Linked DNA regions of Homo sapiens. The protein of the gene in region 2 purifies or fractionates together with the protein of the main gene of each other region. This does not show direct contact. Each region holds a gene or a part of one and is shown on either strand. Other genes may lie near its edges. The genes, in order: TES and SNN.

What was found.
Region 1: the proteins of SNN (region 2) and TES purify together in Homo sapiens (affinity purification with mass spectrometry; 2 studies listed by BioGRID and IntAct, with this or other methods). This does not show direct contact.

What each region holds. Positions count from the first base shown.
Region 1 is NC_000007.14:116,234,249-116,238,159, reverse strand, and holds part of TES (testin), read right to left. Parts: intron 3,627-3,911; coding exon 3,541-3,626; intron 2,293-3,540; exon of another isoform or gene 1-2,292. UniProt on the Homo sapiens protein: Scaffold protein that may play a role in cell adhesion, cell spreading and in the reorganization of the actin cytoskeleton. Plays a role in the regulation of cell proliferation. May act as a tumor suppressor. Inhibits tumor cell growth.
Region 2 is NC_000016.10:11,666,813-11,670,723, forward strand, and holds the start of SNN (stannin), read left to right. Parts: upstream 1-1,642; 5' UTR 1,643-1,728; intron 1,729-3,911. UniProt on the Homo sapiens protein: Plays a role in the toxic effects of organotins. Plays a role in endosomal maturation.

The DNA.
Region 1 (3,911 bases), on a different chromosome or scaffold from region 2:
TCAGAGTGATGAAGAATGAGGTCTGGGTATTTATCTCCTGGCTTTCTGTAAGTATACAAGGTGATAAAAAGGAAAATGATTCCTAACAACTTGGGGGTATGTGGAAGCAGGGGAAGGGGGTGCTGTGGGCTGAACTGTGTTTCCTCAAAGTCATATGCTGAAGCTCAAACTCCTAATGTGACTGTATTTGGAGCAGGGGCTTTTAAGAAGTAAAGTTAAAAGATGTCACAAGGTGAACGTCACAATCCATTGGAATAGGTGACCTTATAAGAAAAGGGAGAGAGATCTCTTCCTCTCCAGACACACACACACACACCCACACACACCAAGGAAAGGCCATGTGAGCACGTGGTGAGAAGGCAGCCGTCTGTAAGCCAGGAAGAGAGACCTCACCAGAACTCAACCATGTTGGCACCTGATCTCGAACTTTCCAGCCTCTAGAACTGGAAGAAAGTACATTTCTGTTTAAACTACCAGGTATGTGATATTTTGTTATGGCAGCCTGAAAAGACATACATGGGCAGGGAAGACTTCTCAGAGGTATTTCTTGAGCTGAGACTTTTTGTTTCCTAGTGGTGGGAGGTAGGGTTTTCCAGGCAGAGAACACCATGCAATAAGGCACAAAATTTCAGGGAATAGTATGTATCAAGCACTTGGATCATAGAGTGCTTGGAAGGGAAGTGGAAGAGGCTGGAAAAGCAAGCAGAGGCCAGATGTTAGGGTTTAATGTCAAAGGCCAAGAAATTTGCCTAAAAGAAGTCCAGTGGGAAACTACTGAGGGTTCTTAAGTCATCTGAAGTATGTAATAGTATCCATGTTCAAAAGACCATTCTTGTGATTGTGTGAGAGGCCAGACTAATAAAGAGGTAGAGAATAATTTAACTCTGATTTTTGAAATGTGCCCGATGGAGCCCTCAGGGTCCTAAGTCAAGGATCACCATGAAGCTGGAGGAGGAGGCTAAGTGGGCAGGGTCATGGGATCCCATGTCTACTTCACCCACATAAGTTCTGTGGCCCTAGACTAGACCTGGAATCTTTGTTACACTCAGGACAACTAGTCTAGAATATTTTACTTCAAAGACTGTACTGAAAGAGGCTACATAGGGAGGTCAAAGGCACCTGCTTCAGCTCTTTTAGCTATGGTGAAAAAGTCAGGGAATTATCAAGAATTCTGAGAGAAATGTGACTGGACCCATGCCAGGAAGATGTCAGAACTACTAAGAAATACCAATGGGGTGGACTGTTATCAACCCCAGCTGAATGACAGGCCATATGCAAAGTCCTAGACTATTATGGCTCTTAGATTTTCAGACTACACCCAGTTGATTAAATGAGTCTGTGTGATAAATTGAAATGTAAAAGGTTATTTTCATGCCATGGAGATCTGCTCTTGTCGGATATATTTTCATCTGAAAATATCGATTAAAATGATTAATATAGACATAACAAAAATGACTAACTTGCTTTAGAGAAAAGATGATATCTCTTAGGAATGAGCTTTAAAATCTCACGAGCGGTTTTTGGCAACTGCATAGCAGAACTAAAAAGAATGCAGGTTAAGTATCTCTTACCCAAAATGTTTCACAAGTAAAATAAAACAGAAGTGTATCAGATTTCAAATTTTTTTTAAATTTTGGAATATCTGCATAAACAATGAGATATCTTGGGGATAGGGCCCAAGTTTAAACATAAAATTAATTTCTGTTTCATATACAGCTTATGTACATAAGCTGATGGTAATTTTATACATATTTTAAATAATTTTGTACAAGACACAAAGGTTTGAATGCATTTTTGAATGCAACCTGTCACACGGTCAGGTATGTGAAATTTTCCACTTGTGGCATCGTGTTGACACTCAAGAAGTTTTGGTTTTGGAGCATTTTGGATTTTGGATTTTATGTATTATAAGATTGTAAGGTAAAAACTATGCCCAGGAGAGGGCAGTGCAGCCTTCTGTAAAGTTAACTAATAGGCCCAATAGAAAATAGTGTGAGCATTAAGAGCAGAGATGTTCTAATTCATGAAAACTATTTTGTGTTAAGTCACTTTACCTTTTTAAAACATGAGAGACATACTGCCACTTCTATGTCCCTTGAAGAGACAGCACAAGGGAGAGCTGCTTAAGTCTTGTAAAAAAAAATTCTGGAAAACTTTAGCTCCCTAAAACTGAAGAATTGTATCAAAACTGAAGAACTGTATCAGTTCTAGCAGGTTTCTACTGACTTTCCTATTTTAAACAATTATCTTTGTTTCTGAAAACTGATTCAATAAACTAGTTTTTAAAAGAGATTAATGTCTAAAATTTTATTTGTTTATATTCTCCTTTAATTTACACTGTACACATCTCCAAGAGCTGATGAAAGTATTCTAAACGGTTTCCTGTGGAAATCTGTAGTACAGAAGTGTTTCTCAAATGAGAGTCATCCTAACAAGGTAGCTGCCATCCTAAAACTGTATAGTTATCTTTATTTTTTTTTCCTGCTAATTCTAACTTTGAGCAGACTTGTGAATTACCACTATGGACTTGACAGTCATTCATAAGCACAGGTTTCAAATACTGATTTTAGATTTATATGATATGCAGTAGTACTTTCAAAACAACCTAAAGATAAGATCTATAGAAAATTCACATTTTTGACTCACTAACATTGTCTTGTGTATATATGCACTTCATTCAAACCAAGACACTACAATTAATTTTTTTCTTAAAAAAATTCAAGTGTTTCAATGGTTTTTCACTAGTAACTTTACAGCTAAAAATTTTAAAGAGATCTAAATTCAACTTCATTTCCTGATAACTAACATATACATGCTTGATTCAGTATTCATATTTGTTTACGGAAAATGTAGACATGAGATGTAAAGTTACCAATTTTTAAGAAGAGAATAATTAAATTATTAAACAGGGCCAGGCATGGTGGCTCACGCCTGTAATCCCAGCACTTTGGGAGGTTGAGGTGGGCTGATCACTTGAGGTCAGGAGTTTGAGACCAGCCTTGCCAACATGGCGAAACCCCATCTCTACTAAGAATACAAAAAAGAAAAATTAGCCAGGTGTCGTGGCACAAGCCTGTAATCTCAGCTATTCAGGAGGCTAAGGCAAGAGAATCGCTTGAACCAGGAAGCGGAGGTTGCAGTGAGCTGAGATCACACCACTGCACTCCAGTCTAGGTGACAGAATGAGACTTCGTCTCAAAAAAAAAGTAACAAATAAATTATTAAACAGTCCTGGAGGATTACCACAAACTTATTTACCACCAGAAAGATGATATATTCAGTATTTCAGGCTCGAAGGAAATCTTAAAGACAGCAAGCAAATCCAACAACTCTAAATAGTTATTATGGTCCAATTCACTAAGTCAAACTTAATGACAGTAAGACAGAACACTTTTTATGTTGTATTCATTTCTCAGAAAAGACAGTAACAGGTCTGCAACTTAGCAACCATGCTGGAGAACTCGAAGATATCTCCACTGTCTGAGGAAGTATTGCAAAAAGTATAAATTACTAATGTGGTTGCAGTTTTCAAAACAATACCTCCAGAAGTGCAGTTCGAATCCTTCACATTTTTCTTTGCATTTTAAACAAGGGGCTCCAAATCCTTGCTCGTGACCTAAGCCCATCTGTTAAAAAGAAAACATCATGAATCTGTTATTAGATTCTTTACAAATCTAAAAATTCAATAAATTGCACTTTTAATTCCACTTACCACTTGTGTTGAGATAACTTTCAAACAAATCTTATATTTAGTCAATGATGATACCCAGGTATGTACATGGCAGTTCCAAGTACATACATAACATATTTTATATTCTGATTGCTTTTTATCATGAAAAGAAAAGCATCAGAATATAACTGTATAGAAAACTACAAATATTGCAAATAACAAAAACTCATGAATTTATGTC
Region 2 (3,911 bases):
AAAATTAGCCGGGCATGGTGGCATGCACCTGTAGTCTCAGCTACCTGGGAGGCTGAGGTAGGAGGATCGCTTGAGCCCAGGTTACAGTGACCTATGATTGCACCACTGTACTCCAGCCTGGGCGACAGAGCAAGACCTTCTCTCTAAAAAAAAGAAAAAAAATTGCTTCGTCAAATCTGCCCACATTCATAGATATAGGCTGAGTGGGACGATGGCTTGAGCCCAGGAAGGAGTTGGATGGAGGCTGTAGTGAGCTGTGATTGCACCACTGTACTCCAGCCTGAGTGACAGACCAAGACCCCGTCTCAAAAACAAAACAAAAAACCCCAAGGGAGCTACTCTTGGCTGGGCGATCAGGGAGGGCCCTCCTGAGGAAGGGGCACTTAAGCTGAGATCGGGAAGATGAAGTAGAAGAGTTCCAGCTGCAGGGAGCCACATAGGCAAAGGCCTGGCGGTGGGAAAGGCTTGGTGCACTGGGCGCAGGGAAGAAAGCCCAGCGAGGCTGAGTGGAGGGAGTGAGGGCCTGGCCACCTCAGCCTCGTGAGCCCAACCCGCCATGCTCTTCCAGAGGCTTCTGCTTGAGAATGGGAAAGAAGTTTCCAGCAAATAAGGCCCCCGTTCCCAGGAGGAGGTCCCAGCTCGCCCTGCCCCCTCCTGTCTTCTCAAGTCCCCTGGGCCACAGAAGCCTTGAGGGACCCACCCTCACCCCTTCTGTGGGCCCCAGGGCTGGGGTGTCCTCTCGCCGATGGCCTTCTTGGGGTGGATGAGTGGAGATTACTCCAATAACTGGAGCCTCTGTCTTCCCAGGTAGACAGGCCTGGCCTCAAAACCCTCTCTCCATCAGGAGCAGGCTGTGGGACTTCAGCTCTTTGGAGCCTCAGGTTCCTCATCTGTAAAATGGGAAGATTCTTTCTTCCGGAGTCATCTTAATAAAATGTGTTGGGCTGTTTATACAGGGCAGGCATTTGGTGGGGGCCAAACCACCGGGTAATTATGCTAAAAATAACTATGATTATAGGTGGCAGAGGGGTGCAAATGCCTCACAGCCTCATCCCGCAGAGGAATGAGAGCTTCGTCAGGGCCGGGACCTTGTCTGGCTCGTGGCTGCTCCCACGACGACTGGCGTGGCAGGCACGTGGTCAGTGTTCCGCCATCGACTGACTGGGCGGATGAATGATACATAAATGAATTCGCGAACGACTGATGCCCAGCTTCCTCCCGAAGCAAGGTCATTCACCTCAGCGGTCGCGCCTCTCCCCTGCCCCTGCCCCGGATTCCCCGCCGCTCTCAGCTCTCGAGGAGTATGCAGCACTCTTCCGTGCAGCGTGCCTCAGTTTCCTCCGCTGTAAGCAGGCGGGACCAAGGCAGCCTGCCGGGGTCAGGATGAGGCTGGCAGAGGAAGGGCGCCTGTAGTGGGGCCCCGTACCCACGGGCGCCCAATCCGCGCTCGCCAGGGCCGAGCCCGCCCGCCGCGCGCAGCCCCCGCCCCACCGCCTGCCGGCCCCGAGCACACGTGACTCCGCCCCGGCCCGCCCCGCCCCGCCGTCCCAGCGCGGGCTCCCATTGGCCTTTCTGGGAGGCCCCGTCCCCAGCCGGGGAGGAGCCGGGCCCCGCCCGCCGCAGCGCGGGGCTCCTGCGTCCCGAGTGCGCGGCGGCCGGACCGGGCGGGCGGAGCCGGGCCCGCGGGGCTGCTGCGGGGCGATCGGGCCGGGCCGCTGCCGCGCCATGGTGAGCCGGGCGGGGCAGGCCGCGCGCTCGGGCCGGGCGGGGGCGCCGGGGCCCGGGGGCGGGAAGGGGGAGGCCAGGACGAGGAGGGGCGCGCGCGGCGGCGGGGCCGGGCCGGGGTCTGCGGGCGGGGGAGGGGCGGCCCGGCGGGCGCGGCTCGGGGGAGGGTCCGTTCCAGGGGCCGCGCCCGCGGGCTGGGGTTCTTTGTCAGCGGCGCTGCGGCGAGATCCGGACAAAGGAGGCGGCGGGGGGCGGAGGCCGCTTTGTGGGGATCGCGGGGCGCTCGCCCCCGCCCGTGCAGCCCCCGCCCGTCCTCAGCTACGCTCCCGCCTTCCCCCGGCATTTCGGGGTTCTTCAAAATTCTGGGAGCTCCGGGGAGGGCTCCGGGGATAGGGGTCCAGGTGACGTCCGGCGCCCGTCTCGCGGGTAGGGAAACTGAGGCCGGGCCGCAGCGTTCGGCGCCCGGTTCCGTGGGCAGCGGCTGCGCGGCGTGGGCATGCCTAGCTCCCCTGGTCCCCGTCCCACACCCCGCCTCCGTCGGGCCGATTCGAGCTACCTCCCCAGCTGCCGTCCCCTCTCCAGCTGTCGCCCCCTGGGCCGAGCCCCCTCCTCCCTGGAGCCTCGCTTTGCTCCTCCGTGGAGTGGGGGAGACGCCGGCGCCGCCGGGCAGGGTGGAACGGGAGGGTGCGCGGAGCGCGCCTGGCACCGCGCCTGCCACGCCGCCCGCGCTCAGCACTCGGGAGCCGCCGGGGCGCTGTCACCCCTAAGTCCCCAGCACCCAGCCCAGGTCGCCCAGCCCGCCCCAGCGAGGGCCACACTGGGGTTCACCTGTCCGCGGCCCCTCAGGCACGCGGGAGAGGAGGTAGGGAGAATGTGGCATTTTAGAGTCAGGGTCGAAATGCGGGATTTTGGATGCAGGTTGCCTGGGTTTGAATCCCTGCGCGTCTACTTTTGAGCTGTGTGACCTTGGGCAATGGACTTAACTTCTCTGAGCCACCAATTTCTGTATCTGCCAAGAGGGAACAGTAATAGCTCAACTGCCCTGTTGTCTTGAGGCAGAAAGGAGACATCTGCGTGAGCTGTTTATCTCAGTGTCTGGCACATATAATTGCCACCAACTTTCTCCGGCATCTACAAGCAAAGTTGTTTGGCCAAACAGGCCAACCCTGGGGCAGCCTGTGAAAATGACCAGCGGGTGATTCACAGGGTGGGGGCATGAGCCTCTGGCCTGGCCCGAGGAAGACCCCGACTGACCTTGGGGCAGTCCCGGTTCAGAGCTCTGCGGGCTCCCGCTTCCTCTTTTGCCACTGGGGAACCTAGGGGATTCTGGAGCGAGTTTCCTCTTCTGAGGATGGGGGTGTCATGGGTGGGGGTGGAGGATGAGATAACACTGGCCAGAGAGCTGGGCACAGCCCCATCAGTGTCAGTCCCACTGGCATCCGGCCGTTCTTGGTCCTGGCTTCTGGAGGGCTGGGGCCTTGTGTGATGCGTCCTTGTGTCCCACTGGCTGCTGGAGGCCCAGGGCAGAACGGACGTCCCGCCTCGTCCTGGCTGTGTCCAGCAGTGCCCTCTTCTCCCTACAACCCTGTTTTCCCAGTCAGAACCTGGGGCAGGAAACGTTTCTGGTTTGTGACCCGGGGTTCGCTGAAGAGTTTGTTGGCACCCTTGGCAGGTGGCTTTATGGGGGGAGGCAGTACTGAAAGCCCCGTAGGGATGGCTGGTCCCCTGTAAGCAGGGCAGCCCTCCTGGCGTCTGTCAAGGAGCCTCAGGAGGTGGCGGCTGCAAGGCGGGGGTGTTTTGCTGGTGGTGAGCCCGGCAATGCTCATGATGTGCCCGGTTGAGTTAGGAGGAGGCAGCGTGTCCCTGGGGAAGGGGTGTTTGTGGCACTGGGCCTGGGCCAGGCTCTGTGCCCTTCTGGCCCTGGGGGTGGGCTTGGGGATCCCTCGGGCTCAGTGTTCTCCCTTTGTCCCTGCTGTAGCACACAGGAAGGTGTGGCTGGTGACATGCAAACCTGGTGACCTCATGTCCCTTTTGTTTTCACTTTTCTTACCACTTCTCATCCTCCCCACGACCTGGTAGATGAGGTCAGGGACTCGTATCCGCTTTGCGCATTGAGAAACTGAGGCCAAGAGGAGCAGCTTGCTTGGCTGGGCGGAAGCAGGCCGCAAAAGTGAGTGCTGGTCTGG